Linked DNA regions of Homo sapiens. The protein of the gene in region 1 purifies or fractionates together with the protein of each later gene. This does not show direct contact. Each region holds a gene or a part of one and is shown on either strand. Other genes may lie near its edges.

The links.
Region 2: the proteins of TRMT1L (region 1) and ATF1 purify together in Homo sapiens (co-immunoprecipitation; one large-scale study listed by IntAct). This does not show direct contact.
Region 3: the proteins of TRMT1L (region 1) and CFAP97 purify together in Homo sapiens (affinity purification with mass spectrometry; one large-scale study listed by BioGRID and IntAct). This does not show direct contact.
Region 4: the proteins of TRMT1L (region 1) and POLR3H purify together in Homo sapiens (affinity purification with mass spectrometry; one large-scale study listed by BioGRID and IntAct). This does not show direct contact.
Region 5: the proteins of TRMT1L (region 1) and CRCP purify together in Homo sapiens (affinity purification with mass spectrometry; one large-scale study listed by BioGRID and IntAct). This does not show direct contact.
Region 6: the proteins of TRMT1L (region 1) and NTPCR fractionate together in Homo sapiens (co-fractionation; one large-scale study listed by BioGRID). This does not show direct contact.
Region 7: the proteins of TRMT1L (region 1) and TCEA1 fractionate together in Homo sapiens (co-fractionation; one large-scale study listed by BioGRID). This does not show direct contact.

Annotation. Positions count from the first base shown.
Region 1 is NC_000001.11:185,118,954-185,122,453, forward strand, and holds part of TRMT1L (tRNA (guanine(27)-N(2))-dimethyltransferase), read right to left. Parts: intron 1,557-3,500; coding exon 1,430-1,556; intron 1,319-1,429; coding exon 1,066-1,318; 3' UTR 1-1,065. UniProt on the Homo sapiens protein: Specifically dimethylates a single guanine residue at position 27 of tRNA(Tyr) using S-adenosyl-L-methionine as donor of the methyl groups. Dimethylation at position 27 of tRNA(Tyr) is required for efficient translation of tyrosine codons.
Region 2 is NC_000012.12:50,795,101-50,798,600, reverse strand, and holds part of ATF1 (cyclic AMP-dependent transcription factor ATF-1), read right to left. Parts: intron 2,704-3,500; exon of another isoform or gene 2,693-2,703; coding exon 2,592-2,692; intron 1-2,591.
Region 3 is NC_000004.12:185,201,201-185,205,239, forward strand, and holds the start of CFAP97 (cilia- and flagella-associated protein 97), read right to left. Parts: upstream 2,801-4,039; 5' UTR 2,698-2,800; exon of another isoform or gene 2,272-2,697; intron 1-2,271.
Region 4 is NC_000022.11:41,534,471-41,537,970, forward strand, and holds part of POLR3H (DNA-directed RNA polymerase III subunit RPC8), read right to left. Parts: intron 1-3,500.
Region 5 is NC_000007.14:66,135,347-66,138,846, reverse strand, and holds part of CRCP (DNA-directed RNA polymerase III subunit RPC9), read right to left. Parts: intron 1-3,500. UniProt on the Homo sapiens protein: DNA-dependent RNA polymerase catalyzes the transcription of DNA into RNA using the four ribonucleoside triphosphates as substrates.
Region 6 is NC_000001.11:232,971,111-232,974,610, reverse strand, and holds part of NTPCR (cancer-related nucleoside-triphosphatase), read right to left. Parts: intron 1-3,500. UniProt on the Homo sapiens protein: Has nucleotide phosphatase activity towards ATP, GTP, CTP, TTP and UTP. Hydrolyzes nucleoside diphosphates with lower efficiency.
Region 7 is NC_000008.11:53,987,949-53,991,448, forward strand, and holds part of TCEA1 (transcription elongation factor A protein 1), read right to left. Parts: intron 312-3,500; coding exon 166-311; intron 1-165. Other genes in the region: LYPLA1-TCEA1 readthrough, read right to left, coding at 166-311.

The DNA.
Region 1 (3,500 bases):
AATCCTTGAGACAAAAACCCAAACTTTATACCAAATCCTTTCATCCAAAATCTTATATTCAAATGAAGTGAGAATTCCATTAAGGAAACAATATTTTTTTTTTCAACTAATTTTTATAGTTACATCAGCCTGGGCTAATTATACAGAAAATTTATACAAATACACACAAAACCAAAAATACCAAACCAAGCAACAACAAAAAAACAACCCCCAAACCCAAAAACTCTCATTCCATAAGGTGACAAATTTTACTTCTGAGAGGTAGTACAACCAACCAAATGAATACTGTACGTGCATTAACTGAGGCACTTAAGATCACCCAACCTTTTTAATTTATAACCAAATCTCTCCTCTTCAGGATTTCAGTGCTCATGAACAAGTATTATATTAGATTAATGGTCTCAATTTATTCTGACAAAATCTTACTTTGAAGTTTAGTCATTTAGACCTTAAAGTTACAAAAATAAAGTATTTCTATCTCAGGCAAGTATTTAATTTCTTAAAAGCTAGTAAGAAATGAAAAGATCAATGTGGAGAGAAGTATGATTTCTTAAAAATGGGTACATATTTTAGTTTTTTAATTGTGAAATACATTATGACCTGTAAGAACATTGTTCTTCCTATTCTATTCAGGGTCATTTTAACATGTGAGCCTTCAGCTTCATTTTGTACACTACAAACAGGAAAACATAAACATCATGAATCAGTTTAGGCAGAGATGTGATTAAGAATTGTAAAAGATGGCTTTCATAACATACATAAAATTCCAAACACTTTGCATGTGAAAATTTTCTGAATTATTAAGCAGTAGGGTGATCTCAGTGAGACTTGGCTTCATATGAAATGTTTCCATTAAAATTTTAAGTTTGCCTTAAAACAAAAAAAAACTTGGAAAGCAAAGCTCCCAAACCAGCTAAGTTAGAAACTGCTCAGTTTCTGAATGAAAATGACACTGTTTTTTATTTTTACTCTACTGAATTGAAAGAACAGAAAAAGAACTACAGTTGGTATAGAGAACTATTAGGCCATCTATACAGACACCTGAGAACCAATTCTTCTCTACGTTTACCATCTTCTGCAGCCACTTGCTTCTGCTTTGTCATTCACTGACATTTCAACTCTTTCAGTTACTGTATCTTCAGATGCTGACTGGACATGGCTTTCTGACTGTCCTCCAGTGTAGGTGGGGGTGCTGTACTTTAAAAGGATAGATTTAAACTGCATCAGAGGTGCATCTGTGCGTACACCCATTGGGTCAAAATGAGTTCGGCTTACTCGAAAGCCTGCTTGAGATAAATAGCACAAAAACTTTTTTAACCTGCAAAAAGGAAAGGAAAGAAAAAATAATCAGGTTCTTGTATTTTTATTTAAATCACAATATTATTAAAATATAAAATATATATACTTTGTCATTCACTGGGTGTCTTACTTTGGCATATTCATTCCTTTAATGCTGTGTCTGTGAATGTTGTAATAAAAGGGAGGATGTTCAGTACTGACATCAGTCTTTTGCTTCTTGCCTAAATTTGTGATCATTTCATTACTTTTTCTCTTTCCTGCAACATACACATACAAAGTTAGCATGCTCTTAAAAATTACAAGCCAAATACTTTTATAACTATATATTTATCTCAAGTATAAATCCTGACACATTATTTCAACCTGACTATCCAATCTTAATTCTTATAATTTATTCTATTTTCACGGTCCTTCACTTATGTAATTTTCATATTAAACTGCTGAATCAGAACTTCCTTTCTACCTTCTTCAACTTCAAGCCACACTCTATTTCGTCTCCTGTAGGAAGCCATCTGTCAATCTGGGGCTAGTCACTTCATACATTTCATTGTTGTTAATACTACACTACACTACTCAGAGTTTGATTAAGTTGTCATTTTTTTTTCTTTTCTTATAGTTCCTTAATGTGTGTAAGTCCTTTCTCCCCAAGTTATATTCTAAGTTCCTAAGGACAATGTCTTTCATTTTTATACCTGTATTTCTACTGAGTGATCAGTATTGGATACACAGTGGGTCTTTAGTAATCACAAAACAAAGAAAAACAACACAAAGTCTTGAGAGTTTGGACACAGAAACTGACATAAGGTCAATGTTATGATCTCATTGCCTATTTCTCATCACAGCACTTAGTTTTTTCATTTTGAGTGAAAGGAGGCCAGCTAAGATTCTAGAACTGTATCCTTCCAAAAATCACAACATGAAAACAACTGAGATATCCAATACTATAATGAGATTTTGCCTGGTGTTCAACCCTTGATTATTTATATATGAACGTTATGGTCAAATCTTATCTCTTCAGGGAAAGTAATTAACATCTGCTTAAGCAAAATATTCAGAAGCTGCCAGGAGCAGTAGCGTACACCTGTGTAACTGGGACCCAAGTCCCAGCTACTTGGGAGGCTGAGGTGGCAGGATGGCTTGAGCCTAGGAGTTTGAGTCTAGCCTGAGCAACACAGTGAGACCCTGTCTCTTAAAAAAAAAAAAGTATTGAAAAGGCAAAGTTGATACATAAAAATAAATTACATTCAAAATAAATATAAATTATTGCTGAACTGTTGCCTCTTTACATAAAAACATAAAGCAAAAAGGACAACCTGGGATCCATCCATCAAATCAGAATTATAATTTGAAATCTAAAATTTGAAACTGCATGAAATCTAATGAGGCACCTAGTCAAAGGATAGATATCCAGATTTAGTACAAGTTCTAGGAGCATCTGAGGCAAAAAATCTGATGTAATACGTTAATAGTGAGTATCATCAGCAGTATATAGATTTTTTTTTTTGGCCTGGTAATTTCTTCTTTTTTAAAAAATAATTTCAACTTTCTTTATCGATTAAAGGGTATATGTGTAGGTTTGTTACGTGGGTATATTGTGTAATGCTGGGGTTTGGGGTCCTAACAACCCCAGCACCCATGCAGTGGGCATAGTACCCAACAGGTGGTTCTTCAGCCCAGGCCACATCCCATCCCTCCCCCATCTAGTAGTCCCCAGTGTCTATTATTCCCATCTGATGTCTGTGAGTACCCAAAGTTTAGCTCCCACTTGTAAGTTAGAACATGGGGCTTTGGTTTTCTGTTCTTGCATTAGTTTTATTAGGATAACGGCCTAGAGTGCCATCCATGTTGCTGCAAAGAGCATGATTTTGTTCTTTCTTATGGCTGCATAGTATTCCTTAGTACATATGTTCATTTTCTTTATCCAGTCCATTGATGATGGGCACCTAGGTTGATTCTGTCTTTGCTACTGTGAATAGCACTGCAATGAACATATAACGTATCTTTGACAGAATGAATTATTTTCCTTTGGGTTTGCATAGTACTATCATTTTAAGATTTTATGTGTTGACCAATGGTCTTAGAATAACCATATAATTTAAAAGTTATAGAAGAGCCCACAAAAATTAGTCTAATTTCCTTAATTTACTTATGAGAAAGGCTCACAGATTAAAAACAAATTTTTTTTTTGAGATGGAGTTTGG
Region 2 (3,500 bases), on another chromosome or scaffold:
ATGGTGACTCACGCCTGTAATCCCAGCACTTTGGGAGGCCAAGGTGGGCAGATCACGAGGTCAGGAGATTGAGACCATCATGGCTAACACAGTGAAACCCCGTCTCTACTAAAAAATACAAAAAATTAGCCAGGTGTGGTGGCGGGCGCCTGTAGTCCCAGCTACTCGGAAGACTGAGGCAGGAGAATGGCATGAACCCAGGAGGCGGAGCTTGCAGTGAGCCGAGATTACTCCACTGCACTCCAGCCTGGATGACAGAGCGAGACTCCATCTCAAAAAAAAAACAACAACCATGAAACTACCCAAATTAATCATTATTACTATTGTTCTAAAAAGCCAATGCTAACTGAAATGAATTGTCTTTGTTCACCATACTTTCTCACATTTATATTCCTTTCATTTTCTTCTTCCTGAAGTATACACTTAAGTAGTTTCTTTTTTCTTTTTTTTTAGAGATGGAGTCTCACTCTGTCACCCAGGCTGGAGTGCAGTGGCACGATCTCAGCTCACTGCAGCCTCCGCCCCCTGGGTTCAAGCTGGGACTACACGCATGTGCCACCATGCCTACCTAATTTTTTTATTTTTAGTAGAGATAGGGTTTCTCCATGTTGGCCAGGCTCGTTTCGAACTCCTGACCTCAAGTGATCCACCCGCCTCGGCCTCCCAAAGTGCTGGGATTACAGGCGTGAGCCACTGTACCCAGCCTCCTTAAGTAGTTTCTTAAATCAGTTTGAAAATGATTATTATTTCACCGTCATTTTTGAAAGACTGTTCAGTAGGCACAGAATTCCAGGTCAAAAGTTACTTTCTCTTTGAATTTAAATATTGGAGCCTGAGTACAGTGGCTCATGCCTGTAATAGCAACACTTTGGGAGGCTGAGGTGGGAGGATCACTTGAGCCCAAGAGTTTGACACCAGCCTGGTCAACATAGTGGGACTCTATCTCTACCAAAAATTAAAAAAAATTAGGTGGGCATCATGGCATATGCCTATAGTCCCAGGTACTCAGGAGGCTGAGGAGCTGACCCCAGGAGGTTGAGGCTGCAGTGAGCTGTGATCACACCACTGCACTCCAGCCCAGGCAACAGGGTGAGACCTCCGTCTCAAAAAAACATGTAATAATTTAAAGATAAAAATAAGGATTTTAGTTCATTGTCTTATACTGTACTTCAAAAATCTGTTGTCAGCTTACTGGTCCTTCCTTTCTAGGTAATTGGTCTTTTCACTTGGAAGCTTTTAGCTTTTAAGATCTCAGGTTTATCCTTGGTGTTCTCCAGTTTTACTTTACAACATACACCTAGATGTAGGTTTCTATTAATTTATCTTGTTTGGGACCTTGCTTTCTTATGCTGAGAAATTCATATCCTGGAAATTGCAGTCATTATCATTTTCTCTCCTGGAGAGACTAGAAGCTGGAAGTGCCCTTCCCTCTTCTCTCCTTTTATCTATGTATGTTGTGTACTGGACCTTCTCATTCTGTGTTCTATCTTAACTTTGTCTTTCTGTGTTCCATTCTAGGTAATCTACTCAGAGCTGTATCCTCAGGTTCTCTCATTTTGTCTTCAGTTACGGGTATTAACCCCTTATCAGATAAGTGGTTTGCAAATAATTTTTTCCCAGTCCGTAAGTTGCCTTTTCATTTTGTTGCTTTGTTTCCTTTGCTACACAGACACGTTTTTTAGTTTGACGTAGTCCCATTTATTTATTTTTTTGTAGCCTAAGCTTTTGGTGTGATATCCAAAAAATCATTGCCAAGGTCAATGTCGAAGAGCTTATCGCCTATGTTCTCTTCTAGGATTTTTATGGTTTCAGGTCTTAACATTTAGGTCTCTTATCCATTTGGTGTTGATTTGTGTAATGGTGTAAGATAAAGATTAAATTTACATTTTTTTTTTTTTTTGAGACAGAGTCTTGCTCTGTTGCCCAGGCTGCAGTGCAGTGGCACAATCTCGGCTCACTGCAACCTCCGCCTCCCAGGTTCAAGTGATTCTCCTGCCTCAGCCTCCCAAGTAGCTGGGATTACAGGTGTGCACTACCACACCCGGCTAATTTTTCTATTTTTATTAGAGACGGGGTTTCACCATGTTGGCCAGGCTGGTCTCAAACTCCTAACCTCAGGTGATCTGCCCGCCTCAGCCTCCCAAAGTGCTGGGATTACAGGCATAAGCCACTGCATCCGGCCAAAGGTCCAATTTCATTTTTTCTTGGAGACAGGATCTTGCTCTATCACCCAGGCTGGAGCACAGTGACACAATCACAGATCATTGTAACTTCAAACTCCTGGGCTCAAGCCATCTTCCCGCCTTAGCCTCTAAGTAGATGGGACTACAGGCGTGCGCCACTATGTCCAGCTAAGGTTTGTATTTTTTGAAGAGACAGGGTCTTGCCATGTTGCCCAGGCTGGTCTTGAACTCCTGGGCTCAAGCAATCCTACCTCGGCCTCCGAAAGGGTTGGGATTATAGGCGAGGGCCAACCAATTTCATTCTTAACACTGACGCGTGCTAACTTCTTTAGTGTACTTTGCACAGCACCTCTTGAACTCATTTGGTACTATCATAACATGCAGGGCTTCATACAAGAGAGTACTCACCTGTAAGATGGGCGCCGTGCTAGGATCCCGTGGGCTTTCTGTGAGGAGCCTATGCTGTCGGATGAGTCCTGGGACTCCTCACTTTCTGATAAAGATGATACCTAAAAAAGAACTGGCATTAACATGATGAACAATGCAGGTGGGAAAAGAAACAACTGAATTTTTACTTTTAGAAAAAAATGATCTGTCTCCTGCCACTCCAATTCATTTGTACATTAAATCTAAAGTCTAAAAGAAAGGAACAAAAGGAAAAGGAAAAATGAGAAAGTTTATTCCAGGAGCCCAACCTATTAAAGGAATATCAAATATAGCAGGCCCAGAGCTGAGAATAAAGTCTGTCCCCCAAATGAAGCAGTACTATTTTACCAGAGTTAAAAAGACCAGGCTCTGATGTCATTCTCCACCCTATTTCTACACTGATGCACATTACTTAAAAGTGTTGTTTTATTACTAATCTACCTGACATGCTAAGTTTGAAAAACCTGTTATATATTCAACTGCTGACATTGAGACGAATATTAAATATACAAGCCTGTAGGTCTGGGAAGAGGTCTGGGCTAGATACATAAATTTTGGAGGTCTAGCTTTTTAGAGTCCTTAAAGCCATGAGACTGGATGAGCTCATAGGGGTAAATAGAAGAGGACTGAGGACTAACCTCAGGAACACTAAGAGACTGGATGAAGAGGAGGAACCAGCAAATGAGACTAAGGAGTCACCAGTAAAGAAGAGAACCAAATGATTGAGCTGTCCATGGAAAACTAGTGAAGACAGCATACTGAGGAGAAAAGAATGATCAACCATGTCCAATGCTGTTTACAAGCTGAGATAAAATAAAGACTGAGAACAGACCATTCGATTTAGCAAGGTGGAGGTCACTGGCAATGGCAGGTATAAATATATGCCATTTT
Region 3 (4,039 bases), on another chromosome or scaffold:
CTGTAATCCCAGCTACTTGGGAGGCTGAGGCAGGAGAATCTCTTGAACCCAGGAAGCGGAGGTTGCAGTGAGCCCAGATCACACCACTGCACTCCAGCCCAGGCGACAGAGCAAGACTCCGCCTCAAAAAAAAAAAAAAAAAAGTTCTACTCTGGATAAAATGCTGTCAAGCAGCATCACAAGCTACAGAAATCTTTTGTGAAAAGAAGTCAATCAATAAAGCAAAGTTAATCATTGTCTTATTTTAAGAAATTGCCACAGCCATCCCAACCTTCAGCACTCAGCACCCTGATCAGTCAGCCGCCATCAACAGTGAGGCAAGACCCTCCACCAGCAAAAAAAAATTACAACTCCCTGAAGGCTCAGATGATTGACAGCATTTTTTAGCCATAAATTATTTTTTAGATAACGTATGTACATTTCTTAAGCATAATACCATTGTACCCTTAACAGACCACGGTATAGTGTAAACATAACTTTTATATGCACTGGGAAACCAAAAAATTCATGTGACTCGCTTTATTCCAAGATTTAATTTATTGTGGTGGTCTGCAAGCAACCAAAATATCTCCAAGGTATGCCTGTATTTACCGTCCCATAGTTTCAATCCCTAGAGGTCTAACCCTCCACCTGGTTTTATGATCTCTTCATGTCGTATCTCCACAGTTTATCATCTTTTAAACACCGTATAGAAACTTTCTGGCCTATCCACTTCTTTTCTAGGAAAGCCCTGTGTCATTGTAAAAATTAACATAAAATACGTATGCCTTTTCTCCTGTTAATCTGCCTTACAGCCCCAGCTGCAGACCCAGCTAAAGGAAAAAGGATTTTTGTTTTTCCCCCCATCCCCTACACTTGTCTCCTTGCCAGACTGGGAGCTCCTCGTCACTTCCTCATCTTTATAACCCCAGTACCCAAAGGAGAACCTGATGAATTTAGTCATTCAAAGAATGTTTATCCCACAAAGGAGTTTGGAGTTAGGAGATTTAAGATTGAGCCATGCTCTTTGCTACCCACGAGGGTAGAAAAATCGCCTTGTATGTGTGTGGCTGGGCATGGAGGCTCATGTGCGGTGGCTCATGTTACAGTCTCATGCCTGTAACTTTGGGAGGCCCAGGCAGGCAGACCACTTGAGCCCAGGAGCTTGAGACCAGCCTGGCCAACATGGCCAAACCCCACCTCTACAAAAAATACAAAAATTAGCCGGGCGTTGTAGCTCTCGCCTGTAGTCCCAGCTACTCCGGAGGCTGAGGTGGGAGAATCGCTGGAACCTGGGAGCTGAGGCTGCAGTGAGCCGAGATCAGGCCACTGCACTCCAGCCTAGGCAACAGAGTGAGATCCTATCTCAAAAAACAAACAAACAAAAAAAATCACCGGGTTTCAACCCAGTTTCCTTGATAGTTTCCTGCCATCTTCCCCCACCCCTCCGGAAGCACAAACCACAACTATGCCTTTATCTGCATTTCCATGATAAGGTCATGCAGTCCCCAAGAGCTGGAAGCCAGCTGCCTCCCTAAGTGGTCACAGTTCATGCGCCCTGGTGCATAGTCCGGTGCCTGTGAGACTTTTCAGGTTTAAATTTTAGTTAATAATATCCAACAGAGTTACTGTAAAGATTTCGACACTCATGTGACTTAATTTACAGGAAAATTTACCCAACAATCCCATCCACTGAGCAATTCTTTTGATAACATTTACTACGAGGTAAGTGATTCAATTTACCAGAGAATAAGAAAAATGACTTAATAAAGTAGTTAAGATTCTCTTTACAACAGACTAGGAAAGGATAAAATTAAAGGATAGTTCATCAGACCATAACAACCCTTTGGTGCTCAATCAAGACAGAGTTTTGCCAGGAGGGGCATGGCTCACGCCTGTAATCCCCGGACTTTGGGAGGCCAAGACAGGAGGATCGCTTGAGCCCAGGAGTTGGGAGGCTGCAGTGAGACATGATCGTGCCACTGCACTCCACCCTGGGCCACAGAGCGAGACCCTGTCTCAAAAAATAAAAATAAAAAAAAGAGACAGGTAAGTTTTTATCAAAGCTGCCTGAGAGTCACTGGGCACGCCCCACTTGCCAGGTCCTACAGACCAGCAATAACAAGACTAATGCTTTCACCAAACATCAGGAAAATACACAGAAAAGCACCGGGCACTTTTTAAACTGTCATCTTGTTACTGTGACAATACATTTCTGTAGTTAAACAGCACAGTAGGCCTCCAACAAGATGCCCAATTGGGTACATGAAAATCCCGGCCCAAATTAAACACCTGTTTCCAGGAACGCTAGGCTCTTGTCTACATCCCCTACCGTCCCCGGAAGGCAGATAACCCCTCGGGCCTCGTGGGTTAGGTTCGAGTCCCTACAAGTAGGAAGAAGTCGTCAGGGCCCGGCATGTGGTCGCGGCCCAATCTCAATTTAGGGCTGATCCTGACCCTCAAAGCCACCCGGAACGCGCGAGAGGGCGGGACCCGCCATTCTCACAGGGGACCGGGGTGGAACGGCGCCGCGACCCGCCGCCGCGGGCGCCCCTGTCGTGGGGGCGCGGTCTCCCACCGTCCGCGCAGGCTTCGTTAAACCCACCCCGAGTACTCGCCGCCGCCTGGGCTCCGGAGCGGGGAGACGGATGCGAACGGAAAGGAGCGTGGCGGGCGCCCCGCGAGCAGGGAGCCAGGAGCCGCTCGCGCGCCCCTCACCTGAGAGCCGCGGCCACCACAGCCCCACGCGCGGCGCTGGCGCACTCCCGCGGCCCTGAACGGGCTCCCGGCGCCGCGCGCCCGCGCTTCCGGAGGCGGAGAGAGCGGAAAGGGAAAGGAGGGGCGGCGTGGGGCCCGGCGCTTCGGGAGAGGCGGGGGCGCACGCCGGGCCTCGTGCGGCCCTCGCGGCGGGCGTCACAGAGCGCGGCGGGCAGGCGGCCAGGCCGGGGCTCCACGCGGGCGGAGTGGAGGCCGGGCCAGGGACGCGCACACTAGAAGAGCCGCGGAAGAAGGCGGTCCAGCCCGCGTGGTTGCCATGGCGCCCTAGAGGCGTTACTGCTGCTCCCGGCTGCCTAGGGCGGCGCGGGTAGGCCCCGTTGTTCTCGTGCGTTAATAGGGAAAGCTGCCTTGATTATCTTGTAATTCTCTACCAAACCAAGAATAAAAAAGAACGGCGGCTGTGTGTTTGTGATATTTTCTATCAGCAAATTTCAGTTCATACCACTAGTTAGTTCTGTGGACCAGAGGCTGGTTTCAGAATGGAAAGACCTTTGCCGAGTGGTAAACGAGGTGGGTAGTTAAAACAATCTAAGGTAAAAATGATCTCTGCAGAATATATTGAATACAATAACTTCTCGTTGAACTCTCAGGTATGGTAGGATGATGGCACCCCAAAAATGTGCACCTCCTAGTCCCCACAACACGTGAATATGTCACCTTATGTGGCAGACAGGATTTAGCTGATGTGATTAAGGATCAAAATGGGAAGATTAACCAGGATTATCCAGTGAACCCCATGGAATCACAAAGGTCCTTATAAGATGGAGACAAGAAGTTCAAAGTCAGTAGTGGGAGCTGTGAGCACAGAAGCTAGAGGTTGGAGTGATGTCAGAGGCAATGAGCCAAGGAGTGCAGGTAGAAGCTGCAAAAGGAGGAAACGGATTCTCTCCTGAAACCTCAGGAAGGAACTAGAGCCTGCAAATTTTGATTTTAGACTTAATACCTTAAGCACTGTAAGACAATACACCTGTGTTGTTTTAACTACTGAATTTGTAGTAATTTGTTATAGCAGCAATGGTATACAATCCAGTAGTTAATAAATATTGTTCACATCTAAGTGCAAAGAAGGGTAGGAAATATGGGTCTTACCCTGCCTGTCCCGGGGAGTTCCAGTAAGGATTGTCTATTTTCGTCCTTCACAATGCATTTTGTACTTGTTGGTCTTAATTACCAAAAGTATAATCAATTCTCTTTTTGTTGCCTAAAAGACAGCATTGGCTGGGCGCAGTGGCTCACCCCTGTAATCCCAGCACTTCGGGAGGCCGAGGCGGGTGGGGCCCCC
Region 4 (3,500 bases), on another chromosome or scaffold:
CATGTACAGTGTCCAGAACCACATCCATAGAGACAGAAAGCAGTTAAGTGGCTGCCAGAGGCTGGGTGAAGGACAGGATTAGCAGTGACTGCTACTGGGCGGGGTTTCTTTGTAGGGTGATAAAAACGCTGTGGAATGGCCCCGCGCACGGTGGCTCAAGTCTGTAATCCCAGCACTTTGGGAGGTCGAGGCGGGCGGATCACCTGAGGTCAGCAGTTCAAGACCATCCTGGCCGACATAGTGAAACCCCGTCTCTACTAAAAAAATACAAAAATTAGCCAGGCGTGGTATTGGGTGCCTATAATCCCAGCTACTTGGGAGGCTGAGGCATGAGAATTGCTTGAAACCAGGAGGCAGAGGTTACAGTGAGCTGAGACTGCGCCATTGCACTCCAGCCTGGGCAACAAGAGTGAAACTCTGTCAAAAAAAAAAAAAAAAAAAAATTGTGGAATTAGATAGTGGTGATGGCTTAGCTGATGAGGGTGTTGTTCCTGGTGGGAGGGGGCCCTCTCCTGCCCTGCTCATATCTGCCTACTTACCATAACCCCTGGAGGCCTGTGGTGCCAGTCACTGTATTCCTCCATTCCTATAGTTCCTCCAAACTGGAACTTGCATCTAGAATTTTTAACAGATTCAACTCCTAGCGTTTAGCAACAGAACTGCCTCATAATCGGTGTTGAGTTCTTCCACCAGGAACTATATAATGCTTGTTTGTCTCTCTTTGGGGGAAGCTAAAAAGTTAATGATCATTGATGAGATCTGTCTTCATAAGGAGTTGCAAAATGGTGATAATGTAATTAAAAAAAAAAGATAGTGGTGATGGTTGCACAACTCTTAATATACAAAGCCACTAAATTGTATGCTTTGAAAGGGTGAATTTTGTGGTATGTGAATTATATCTCAGTGAAAAAACAGAAGGACACAGAGCAACAGGCTGGTCAGCCAGGAGAGTGCTGGATCTGCAGTTCATCTCACAAGAGCCCCACCTGGAGGTCTAGGGATGTGTAGCCTGCAGAGGGGATGCCTGGAAAGTCAGAAAGGATGAGTCTAAAGGACCATCAAGAAGAGGAAGGAAGCTGGGCGCAGTGGCTCACGCCTGTAATCCCAGAACTTTGGGAGGCCGAGGCGGGCGGATCACTTGAAGCCAGGAGTTTGAGACCAGCCTGGCCAACATGGCAAAACCCAGTCTCTACTAAAAATACAAAAATTATTAGCTGAGCAGGCCGGGCGCTGTGGCTCACGCCTGTAATCCCAGCACTTTGGGAGGCCAAGGCAGGATGATCCCCTGAGGTCGGGAGTTCAGGACAAGCCTGATCAACATGGAGAAACCCCATCTCTACTAAAAATACAAAATTAGCCGAGCATGGTGGTGCATGCCTGTAATCCCAGCTACTCGGGAGGCTGAGGCAGAATTGCTTGAACCCGGGAGGCAGAGGTTGCAGTGAGCCGAGACTGCACCACTGCACTGCAGCGTGGGCGACAGAGTAAAACTCTTGCATTTTTTAGAGACAGGGTTTTAGCATGTTGCCCAGGCTGGTCTCGAACTCCTGACCTCGTGATCCGCCCGCCTCAGACTCCCAAAGTGCTGGGACTACAGGCATGAGCCACCATATCTGCCCCGTGAAAAAGTTCTGGAGGTGGGCCGGGCGCGGTGGCTCACGCCTGTAATCCCAGCACTTTGGGAGCCCAAGGCGGGCGGATCACGAGGTCAGGAGATCGAGACCATCCTGGCTAACATGATGAAACCCCGTCTCAACTAAAGATACAAAAAAAAATTAGCCGGGCGTGGTGGCGGGCACCTGTAGTCCCAGCTACTCGGGAGGCTGAGGCAGGAGAATGGCGTGAACCCGGGCGGCGGAGCTTGCAGTGAGCCGAGATCACGCCACTGCACTCCAGCCTGGGCGACAGAGCGAGACTCCATCTTAAAAAAAATGAAAGTTCTGGAGGTGGATGGCGGTGAAGGTTGCATAAGAATATGAATGTGCCTAATGCCACTGACTTACACACTTAAAATGTTTAAATTGGTAAATTTCATGTTATGTATATTTTACCACAATAGAAAAAAATGAAATAAATGATAAACATGTCAAAAAAGGTTTAAAAAAAAAAAAAAGGCCAGGCGCAGTGGCTCATGCCTATAATCCCAGCACTTTGGGAGGCCAAGGCGGGCGGATCGCCTGAGGTCAGGAGTTCAAGACTATTCTGGCCAACATGGCAAAACCCCATTTCTACTAAAAATACAAAAATTAGCCAGGCGTGGTGGTGGGCACCTGTAATCTCAGCTACTCGGGAAGCTGAGACAGGAGAATGGCTTCAACCCGGGAGGCAGAGAGGTTGCAGTGAGCCAAGATGGTGCCACTGCACTCCAGCCTGGGTGACAGAGAAGACTCTGTCTCAAAAAAAAAAAAAAAAAAAGGCTTTAAAAAAAAAAAGGTGGGGGGTGTCTCTGCACCAACTCTAGCTGAGGAGGCTGCCCGATTTGCAAATCAATATAACATTTAAAAATGTTAAAAAATAAATAACTAAAGGTGGTCACAAAGGAGCGCTGCTCTAGACTGAGAGCAGGGCCCCCGATCAGTATGGGGCAGGCGGGGGCAGGGTACAGCAGGTCCCAGGCTTGGAGGATGTGGGGAACACGGGCTGGCACCAAATGTCGAGGGATAAACTTGGCCAGTGGGGGTCAGGGTCCCATGCCACAAAGGCCATCATCTGTGAGCACTCCCCACGTGCGGGGCGCTAGACCACAGCTTCACTCAGACTTGCTCGTTGACTCCTCACAGATATTTGATGAAGGAGGAAGGCTCTATTACTGTTATTATACTGTGTGCACAGATAGGGAAACCGAGTTTCAGAGAGGTCAAGCAACTGCTCCCAAGGCCCAGGCAAATAAATATTCCTCTGAGCAAAGGTGAAGGCACAGCATGACCTGGTGCTGAGCCCTTCAGCACTGGCTCAGTGACAGCCCTGAGTGAGGCTGTGGGGTTGCAGGAGAGGGAGCAGTGGGAACAGGGCCTGGGGTCAGGCATCAGCCTCAAAGCATGGCAATTGGTTCCCACCACAAAATCACAGTTCACCCTGCATGGTGCTCAACAGGACTTTTATAGCTGCAGGGTTAACCCCATTGTACAGAGGAGGAAACCAAGGCCGAGAGAAGCAGAGGTACCCGCCCAAGGTCCCCATCCAGGAGACCAGAGCCAGAATTAATTCAAATCTAGGTCCTTGTGATCACTCCATGCCTCCCACCTGGTTCCCAAGAAAACAGAGACTCAGGACAGATGAGGGTGGGGGCTAATAAAAGCCAGCAGTAGAAATCTTCCAATTGAATAGACAGAATTTCCTCCAACTTTTTTTTTTTGAGACGGGGTCTCTCTCTGTCACCCAGCTGGAGTGCAGCGGCGTGTTCTTGGCCTCCTGGGTTCAAGCGATTCTCCTGCCTCCACCTCCACCTCCCAGGGAGCTGAGATTACAGGTGTGTACACCACCAGACCTGGCTAATTTTT
Region 5 (3,500 bases), on another chromosome or scaffold:
GACCAAAGACTTGAAAATCTTTTTTGAAATTTATTTAAATTTTTTTTTTTTTTTGAGACGGAGTCTCGCTCTGTCCCCCAGGCCGGAGTGCAGTGGCGCATCTTGGCTCACTGCAAGCTCTGCCTCCCGGGTTCACGCCATTCTCCTATCTCAGCCTCCCGAGTAGCTGGGACTACAGGCGCCCGCCACCATGCCCAGCTGATTTTTTTTTTTTTTTTTTTTTTTAGTAGAGACGAGGTTTCACCGTGTTAGCCAGGATGGTCTCGATCTCCTGACCTCGTGATCTGCCAGCCTCGGCCTCCCAAAGTGCTGGGATTACAGGCGTGAGCCACCGCGCCCAGGCTAGTGAAGTGAAGCAGTAGGAGTAGAGGGGGATAAAAAAAATCTTAACAGCAGCCAGAGGAAAATGACACATTAGGGTTAGAGTGATAGCGGATTAAAATTTTTTTTTAATTAATTATTTTTCAAAATATAGAGATGGAGTCTCACAATGATGCCCAAGCTGGTCTCAAACTCCTGGCCTCAAGTGATCTTCCCGCCTCAGCCTCCCAAAGTGCTGAGATAATAGGCATGAGCCACTGCATCCAGCCTGATCACAGATTTCTAATCAAAAACTGTGACAGCCAGAAGTCACTGAAATGACATCTTAAAAGTTCTGAAGGAAAAGATCAATCAACCCAGTGAAATTATCCTTCAGGAATGAAAGGAAATAATGACATTCTCAGCTAAATGAAAATAAGAGAATTTGTAGCCAAGAGACCTGTTCTCAGAAAAGTGCCAAAGGCAGTTCTTCCTGGTGAAGTAAATGATAAAAAGGACGCAGGGCACTTCAGGAATAGAGAGGAAAAGAAATGATGACAAAAAGACTATTTTTGTTCTCTTAAGTTCTTTAAAATATGTAAGAATACAGAAAGTCAATGTAAAAACACTACTAATAGTATGCAGATTATATGTTTCAATGTATGTAGATTATATGTTATAAATACAACCATAACACAAAAAGAAGGTAAAGAGACTTATATACACCAACTGGTAAAATATTAACTCTGGACTATAAATGGTCAGGCATGCATATTATTAACCCTACTAGTAACCTAGTAGGGATCCCTTCAGTAACTACTAAAAACAAAAATAAACAAAAAGATACAGCCAAAAGGCTACAAATCTTTTTAGCTTTATAGATATAGAAAAAGCAAGTGACAACATTCAACATCCAATCTCAGCAATCTGAACTTCCTAAACCTGGTAAAAGACATTCATGGAAAACCTAAACTAGCATCATACTTAATGGTGAAGGACTGACTGTTTTCCCTTAATATCAGGGACAAGATGAGGATGTCTGCTCTCACCACTCCTACTCAACATCATCCTGGAGGCCCCAGCCAGGGCAATGAAATAAGAAAAAGAAGGAAAAGCCATACAGATGAGAAAGAAGTAAAACTCTGTTTGCAAATACCACGACTTTCTGCACAGAAAATCCTAAAGAATACACTAAAAAAGTTCCTAGAACTAATAAGTGGATTTATCAAGGCTGGAGGGCATAAGATCAATATAAAGTCAGCTGTACTTCTATATCAGCAATCAACAACTAGAAATGAGCACCATTTACAATAGCACGCAAAATTATGAAATAGGTATAAATCTAAAAAAATTTGTGCAGAACCTGTATGCTACACTGTTTTCATGGACTAGAAGGTTCAGTATTGGCGGGTTGTTTTTTTTTAACCTTTGACTGATCTTAAATTATTATTATTATTAAATTTTTTTTTGAGACAGTCTCGCTCTGTCGCCAGGCTGGAGTGCAGTGGCGCAATCTCGGCTCACTGCAACCTCCATCTCCCAGGTTCAAGTGATTCTCCTGCCTCAGCCTCCCGAGTAGCTGGGACTACAGGCGCCCCCGTCACCACACCCGGCTAATTTTTTGTATTTTTAGTAGAGACGGGGTTTCACCATGTTGGCCAGGATGGTCTTGAACTCCTGACCTCGTGATCCACCTGCCTCAGCCTCCCAAAGTGCTGGGATTATAGGTGTGAGCCACCGTGCCCGTCCGATCTTGAATTATTAATATTGTCAAGATGTCAATTCTCCCCCAAAACTGACCTATAGATGTAAGGCAATCCCAATCAGAATCTCAGCAGGATTTGTTCCAGATATCAACAAGTCAATTCAAAAATGTATACATAGGCCAGGCACGGTGGCTCACACCTGAAATGCTAGCACTTTGGGCAGCCAAAGCAGGAGGATCACCTGAGGTCAGGAGTTCAAGACCAGCCTGGCCAATAGAGTGAAACCCCATCTCTACTAAAAATACAAAATTGGCCAGGCACGGTGACTCACACCTGTAATCCCAGAACTTTGAGAGGTCGAGGTGGATGGATCACCTGAGGTTGGGAGTTCGAGACCAGCCTGATCAACATGGAGAAACCACGTCTCTACTAAAAATACAAAACTAGCCAGGTGTGGTGGCAGATGCCTGTAATCCCAGCTACTGTGGAGGCTGAGGCAGGAGGAATCACTTGAACCCGAAGGCAGAGGTTGCGGTGAGCCGAGATTGCACCATTGCACTCCAGCATGAACTCACAAGAGTGAAACTCCATCTCAAAAAAAAACAAACCAATAAAAAAAAAACGGGCTAGTTTTCTTCTCATGTAAACTCTTGATGTATGACGTTTTCAATTTTAAAAGGTTGAACTCATTCCAGACCAAGAAAAGGAACTGGAAACTACAAGAACTCACAGAAGATGATCAAGCCACTTTTGCCTCAAGCAAACACAAATGTCAAAAGACTTCACTGATCAACTTTATAAAAAGTACTTTAACTTGTCAACCCTACTTTTCATCCAATTTGGTCTGAATTCTGGGAGTGGGGTTGATGCGATATGTCATACAAACTGGGACTCCAAGAAAAGATTTTTTTTTTTTTTTGAGACAGAGTTTTGCTCTTGTTGTCCAGGCTGGAGCGCAAGGGCGCGATCTTGGCTCACCGCAACCTCCGTCTCCCAGGTTCAAGCGATTCTCCTGCCTCAGCCTCCCTAGTAGTTGGGATTACAGGCATGTGCCAGCACGCCCAGCTAATTTTGTATTTTTAGTAGAGATGGGGTTTCTCCATGTTGGTCAGGCTGGTTAGAACTCCCAACCTCAGGTGATCCACCCACCTCAGCCTCCCAAAGTGCTGGGATTACAGGCATGAGCCGCCACACCTGGCCAAGAAAAGATTTTTAAACCCCATTAAGATTTGTTCCTCATGGCACATGTATACATATGTAACAAACTTGCACGTTGTGCACATGTACCCTAGAACTTAAAGTATAATTTTGAAAAAAAAGATAAATAAATAAAAAAAGAAGGAAGAAAGGTCTTCTGCATTTACCCATTCAAACCAGGGTTAGTACTTGATTAATATAATATTTCAATTCTGTCTTGTTTTTTCCCCATTTCTACATTATCACATTTCCTTCCTTTCAAAACAATTTAACTTATTTTACTAATATTTTGAGATC
Region 6 (3,500 bases), about 48 Mb from region 1:
AGGAGGTGCCAAAGATTGTATCAGTGAGATTTTATTTTCCTTCTCAGGTACTGTTCTTTCTTTTCTTTTTTCAGCTATTTTTTTTAACACATCAGAGAATGTTATCGTTTTGCCTCAACTGTCAAACATAATTCTTCAAAAGTCAACAGAGGAAGAAAAGCCCACTACACTCACTCAGAGTTTTACTCTTCCCATTGTTCTTTCTTCCTTCCTGATGTTCCAGGTCTCCTTTTACCATTTCCTTTCTGATAAGAGAACTTCCTTTGGCCATTCTTTTAGAGCAGTTCTATTATGACAAATTCTCTTAGTTTTCCTTCATCTGTGAATGTCTTATAGAATTATGAGTCGACAGTTGTTTCAACACTTGGAAAATGTACCACCTCCTTCTGGCCTTCATGGTTTCTCCTGAGAAATCTGCTGTCACTCATATTGTTTTTACCCTATAGGTAAGGTGCTGCTTTCCTTTCACTGCTTTCAAGACTTTAATTTTCATAAGTTTGACTATGGTATGTCTTGGCATGAATTTGAGTTTATCCTCTTGGGGTTCACTGAAAATGTAGGTTTATGTCTTTTGCCAAATATGACAAAAATGCAGCCATTACTTCTTCAAACACTTTTTCAACCCCACACTCATCTCCTGTTACTACAATGATGTGAATGTCACATCTTTTGTTATAGTCCCACAGGTCCCAGAAACTCTGTTCATTTTGTTCATTACTTTTTCTTTTAAGTCTGCTCTTTGTCAGGTAATTTCTATTGTTCTACCTTCAAGTTCACTGATTCTTTCTCCTGTCATCTCTATTCTGCTGATGAGCCCATTCAGTGACTTTTTTATTGGCTATTGTATAGTTCTAAAATTTTCATTTGATTCTTCTATCTTCTAGGTTTTTGCTGAAACTTTCCAGTTCTTGCTGAGACTATTTTTCATTTGTTTCATGTGTATCTGTAATTTTATGAAGCATTTTTATGATAGCTGTTTTCAAATCCTTGCCCTATAATTCCACTATCTGAGTCACCTTGCTGTTGAGATCTGCTGATGGCCTTTCCTCACTCAGGTTTAGGTATTCCTGATTCTTGGCATGACAAATGATTTTCAGTTGTGTCTGTTGTGTTGTTCCTTAGGTCCTTAGGTTCCTAGCCAGTCTGTCTTTTTCTCTTCACTTTTCAGGTCTTCTTATGCTTGTATTATAAATAACATCCTTAGCAGGAAAAATAAACACAAGTGTGTCTACTCTATCTTGTCTAAAACTGGAAGAGTTCTCGGGTGTTTTTGGAAAGTACTCTGTTCACCCAACGTTATGAAGAATAAGTCAAGATAATATTACTAATTTGTGTGGTATATTTCCCCCATATCATGAGCTCAGTCTCATCTTCACACTATGCATATTCATTGGAAAGTACTCTGTTCACCCAACATTGTGAAGAATAAGTCTAGATAATATTACTAATTCGTGTGGTACATTTCCCCCATATCACGGGCTCAGTCTCATCTTCACACTACGCATGTTCAGCTGGTAGCAAGGGGACGCTGACTCTGACCCCTTTTCATAGCTCATTTTCTTACCTGGAATGTTCTCCCTTCTTTTTCCCATTTCCTCCTTCAAGAGCCAACTCAAGAACCCCTTCCTTTGGACACCTCTCCACTACCACTGCTCACATAGATCTCTCCCTTCCCTGCCCCTAGATTTTGATTGCCCCATGGTCTGTTTTTCTTGAGGGCAGAGATCATGCCTCACAGGTGCCTAAACGATGGACTAAGTACTGAATGTGAAGGGCACTCTCAAAAATGGATTCGGATACTTTATTGCATGTGAGCAATGGAAAGAACCCAAAAATATATCTAATCCAACACCTAAGTTTGCAGATAAAGAAAATGAGGTTCTTGGCCAGGCACAGTGGCTCATGCCTATAATTCCAACACTTTGAGAGGCTGAGGCAGGCAGATTGTTTCAGCTCTTCAATTCGAGATCAACCCCGGGCAACATGGTGAAACCCCATCTCTACAAAAAATGCACAAATGAGTCAGGTGTGGTGGCACATGCCTGTAGTCCCAGCTTTTTGGGAGGCTGAGGTGGAGGATGGCTTCAGCCTAGGAGGCAGAGGATGCAGTGAGCCAAGAGCATGCCACTGCACTCCAGCATGGGCCACAGAGACTAACCTTGTCTCAGAAAAAAAGAAAATGAGGTTCTTGATTTATAAAACTGGAAAAGGCCAGGCACAGTGGCTCACACCTGTAATCCCAGCACAGATTACTCTGGGCAACAGAGCAAGACTCTGTCCCTCCCCCTCAAAAAAATAAGTTAAATAAAAAATAAAATAAAACTGAAACAGAAGGACCACACAAACCCCAAAGCAACAACAACAAAAAAAAACAGGGTATGTCAGCCCCTATCTCTTACTTAATTAACTCAAAGCTAATTGTTTTATTTACAGATCATTAGAAGCAATGATTATCTTGCCTGGAGAATAATTTTGAGTCTCAGAGAGCGGAAGAAATGTGGTATGATCCTAAGACACAAAGTCTGTTTCTGGGCATCACAGTCAGCTCCTTTCAATCCTTCCTTAGGACTGTTAGATTAGATTAGTTTGTGGAACTAGCCAATCCCTGGAGTCTAACACTAGCAATTTCCCGGTCTTCCAGCCTAGAAGCTATCTGACCTCAAAACTAATTTTCTTTCATGATCTTTCACTATTCATTGCCTTGATTTCCATGGAAACTCTATAATCACAACCAAAAATGTAAAATAAGAGAAGACGACATGAAACTCTGAAGAACCCCACAGACTTTTCAGGGCTCTCAAATGTCACCTCCTTGAAGAGACCTTCCCTGATCGCCCTTGCTACTCCTGCCCCCAACTACCACATTGCCTGGTTTCTTTATTTTTGCCTTTATCAGTATCTGAAATTGCTTAACTTATCTGTTCACATTTTTGGTATTCAGCTCCTCCATTAGAATGTAAGCTCCATGAAAGCAGCGCCTTGGTCAGTCTCGTTCACCACAGTATCCCAAGACTTAGAATGACACCTAGCATACAGTAGGTGCTCAATCACTATTGACCAAATGAAGGAATAAATAAATCAATAAAGAAGCGCATACATTTTTCCAAGTCTGGCTGGTCTAACCCTAATGGCTGTTTACCACCACACTCCAGGATTCTTGGTGGCAACATGTGGATACTCCAGGATTCTTTGGTGGCAACATGTGGATACTGCCAGTGGGCCAAGGTGACATTTCACTCAGTGATTAAAATGATCATGAGGAAGGTGCTCACGGGTACTCACTCTCCACTCCCCCTGATAGGAGTGGCCCTGCCTGCCTGACTTGTTCACTTGGCACTTGCAGGGCCAGGGAGCTTTTAAACTGGGGGTGGGGAGTGAGGTGTGTGAGCAGAGCTCAGCCAAGAGCACAGCTACCACTGACTCAAAGAAACTAAGGGTAGGGGTTGGGGAGAAGCAATATCTGACTGAGAGGAAAACAGAGGGACAACAGGGAAAGAAAG
Region 7 (3,500 bases), on another chromosome or scaffold:
CTCCCCCTTAACAGACCCGTATCAGCAACAACTTCTCCCCAAGCTAAGCAGCAGTGGGTGGGCTATCCACAGGGTAACACTCATCAAACAGCAATATGGAGTTGGAGATGGCAGTGGTTGTGGGTGGTGACCAAAGGACTGAGAAATAACATGCACTGGACTTACCCCCTGTTCGAAGAGCTGCAGCAAGCATCTCCCTACACTTCAACCGCACAGAATCAGAAGTGCTTGGTGCCCGAGGAAAGGATGAAACATAAGTATCTCGAGCATTTGTCTCATCCTTTCTGTTGCTTACATTGCCGCTGGAAGTACTGAAATACGCACAAACACCCCAAAAAGAAATCAAGAACAATCCTTTCAAAGTAACAATACTACTATCATGCTGTAAAAACAAAATTTGGGGTCTAAATAAATGACACAGTATCTCAGTGACCTTTATGTGATGGAAAAAAAATTGCCTGCATACAGATTAAAAAGAAGTTAAAAATTTTACAATTTAGTAAAGTGACAAGTATGCCTTTTTTTTGAACTAAACATTTTATCTTTGATTCTCATTTTAAATATTAAGCAATATTTTTAATAGAGAAAATACCCATTATAGCTCAGTACAATAAATGAAAAGCAATGATCTTGGTATAAGGAGAGGGATGAAGGGATGGGACCAGAGAATGACAGCTTTCTTTTTTGAGACGGAGTCTTGCTCTGTCACCCAGGCTGGAGGGCAATGGTGCAATCTCGGCTCACTGCAAGCTCCACCTCCCAGGTTCACACCAGAGAATGACAGCTTTCAACCAAAACTAGAGATAGAGAGAGAGAATGCTTGAAAAACTCTGTTTCACTGGGCATGGTGGCTCACAGCTGTAATCCCAGCACTTTGGGAGGCCAAGAGAGGCAGATCACTTGAGGCCAGTAGAGTTCAAATCCAGCCTGGGCAAAATGGTGAAACCCCGTCTCTATTAAAAATACAAAAATTAGCTGGGCGTGGTGGCACACGCCTGTAATCCCAGCTACTTGGGAGGCTGAGGCAGGAAAATCGCTTGAACCCAGAGGCAGAGGTTTCAGTGAGCCAAGACTGCACCACTGCACTCCAGCCTGGGTGACACAGCGAGACTCCACCTCAAAAAAAAAAAAGAACAAAAAGAAAAAGGAAAACCTTGTTCCACTTAGACAGTGAGTTCCCCAGTGAGACAAATACCATGTGTACTGATGAGTCATGAGGCTACAAAATGGTGTGTTTCTCCCCAGAAACATCACCTCGATATGAACATTTAGGCAGTTTTATAATTTTCCAGTCAACCTAATCCTTTCAATTGCTTCTGAGTAGCTTCTTACGTTGGATTATCACTAAAATGGGTTCTTTCCAAAATAATCTTCATGATTACAATTAAGCTTTATCACATTGAAAACAGCTGCCATAACCCTTTTCAAAGACTGATTAAATCATCCACCATCCATAGATGTGGTTTGCTGCAATGCTACAAGAACATACTCCCTTGCCTTCTCTCCAAAACATAACCACTGTTAAACTTCACAAACAGGTGCCTGTGGGTCAGACGGACATTAGTACCTTTTAAATTTAGTCAGTTCCTTTTTGAAGCCTTCACTGATTTCCCCCTGTATTCCCAAAATATTGATTCACACAGGTTTGTATATGATAACTTTTCATACATTTTCTTCTCTATCAGACTGAGTTTCTCAAGAGCAAAAACTAGGATTTACTTTTCTTTGTATTTTCATTATGTAGCATAATGCCTCTCAGTGATAAATGAATGAGCAAACTAATGCTTAAAAACCCATTTATTATTTTTTTTTTTAAGACTCCAGCCTGAGCAACTGAGCAAGACTTTTCACAGTGGTGAAGAGAGCAAGAGTTGTGCAGTGGTGCCATCACAGCTCATGCAGCTTTGAACTCCTGGGCTCAAGCAATCCTCCTGCCTCAGCCTCCTGAGTAACTAGGACTACAGGTGCATGCCACCATGCCCAGTTAATTTTAAAAATATTTTTTGGCCGGGCAAGCTGGCTCATGCCTGTAATCCCAGGAGTTCAAGAACAGCCCGGACAAAATAGTGAGACCCAGGGTCTACAAAAAGAGTTTTAAAAATTTGCCAAACATGGTGGTATGCACCTGTGGTCCTAGCTACTTGGGGGCTGAAGTAGGGGGCTCGCTTGAGACTGAAAGGTTGAGGCTGCAGAAAGCCTTGACTACGCCACTGCACTCCATCCTGGGTAAAAGAGCAAGACTCTGTCTCCAAAAAAAAAAAATAATCCAACAAACAAACCTTTTTTTTTTGGTAGAGAAAGGGTCTATGTTGTCCAGGCTGGTCTCAAACTCCTGACCTCAAGTGATAATTCCGCCTCGGCGTCCTAAAGTGCTTGAGCCACCGTGCCAGGCCCCAAAACTCATTTCTTTTCTTTTTTTTTTTTTTTTTCTTTTGAGACAGTCTTACGCTGTCACCCAGACTGGAGTGCAGTGAAACAACCATGGCTTACTGCAGCCATGACCCCCAAACTCAGACGGTTCTCCTGCCTCAGCCTCCCAAGTAGCTGGGACCACAGGCATGTGCCATCACACCTGTCTAATGCTTTTTATTACTTGTAGAGACAGGGCCTCCCTATGTTGCTCAGGCTAGTCTCAAACTCCTGGGCTCAAGTGATCCCCCTACCTTGACCTCCCAAAAGTGCTGACATTACAGGTGTGAGCCACCACACCCAGCCAAAAACCCAGTTCTTAAACACTTTGATTAAATGCTTTTGCTTCTGTGTCTGTAGCCAAATGCTCCACAGGAACCAAGGGAAATTGCCCATATGGGCTGAGGGAAACTTTTCCTCACTAGTTTCACTACTGCTGGTCCCACTTCCTACATTCTGATCCTTCCTTTCTAAGCATTTAAACACATTACTTTCTTCTTAAATTCTTGCACCCAAAATATAAAATCCTGCTTAGCTACAAGCAACTTAGATTTAACCTTCTATCTTTCTTTACATGACTCCTCAAAATTCATTTCTCAATCCTCCTGTATTTCTGTGTGTGTTGGGGCGGGGATGGGGTGTAGATAGATACCAATCAGTTACTTTATCAGACTTCACATACAGTAATTTTCTTTTGCAGACAGGCTCTATACCTACACGTCAAGCACGTAAAACTGATAAAAGACAACGAGAGGCCAGGCGCAGTGGCTCACGACAGTAATCCCAGTACTTTGAGAGGCCAAGGTGGGTGGATCACTTGAGGTCAGGAGTTCGAGACCAGCCTGGTCAACATGATGAAACCCCATCTTTACTAAAAGTACAAAAATTAGCTGGGTGTGTTGACGTGCACCTCTAATCCCAGCTACTCGGGAGGCTGAGACAGGAGAATCGCTTGAACCTGGGGGACAGAGGTTGCAGTGAGGCAAGATTGTGCCACTGCATTCCAGCCTGGGCAACAGAGCAAGACTCCGTCTCAAAAAAAAAAATAAAAACAAGGCTGGGCGCGGTGGCTCAGGCCTGTAATCCTAGCA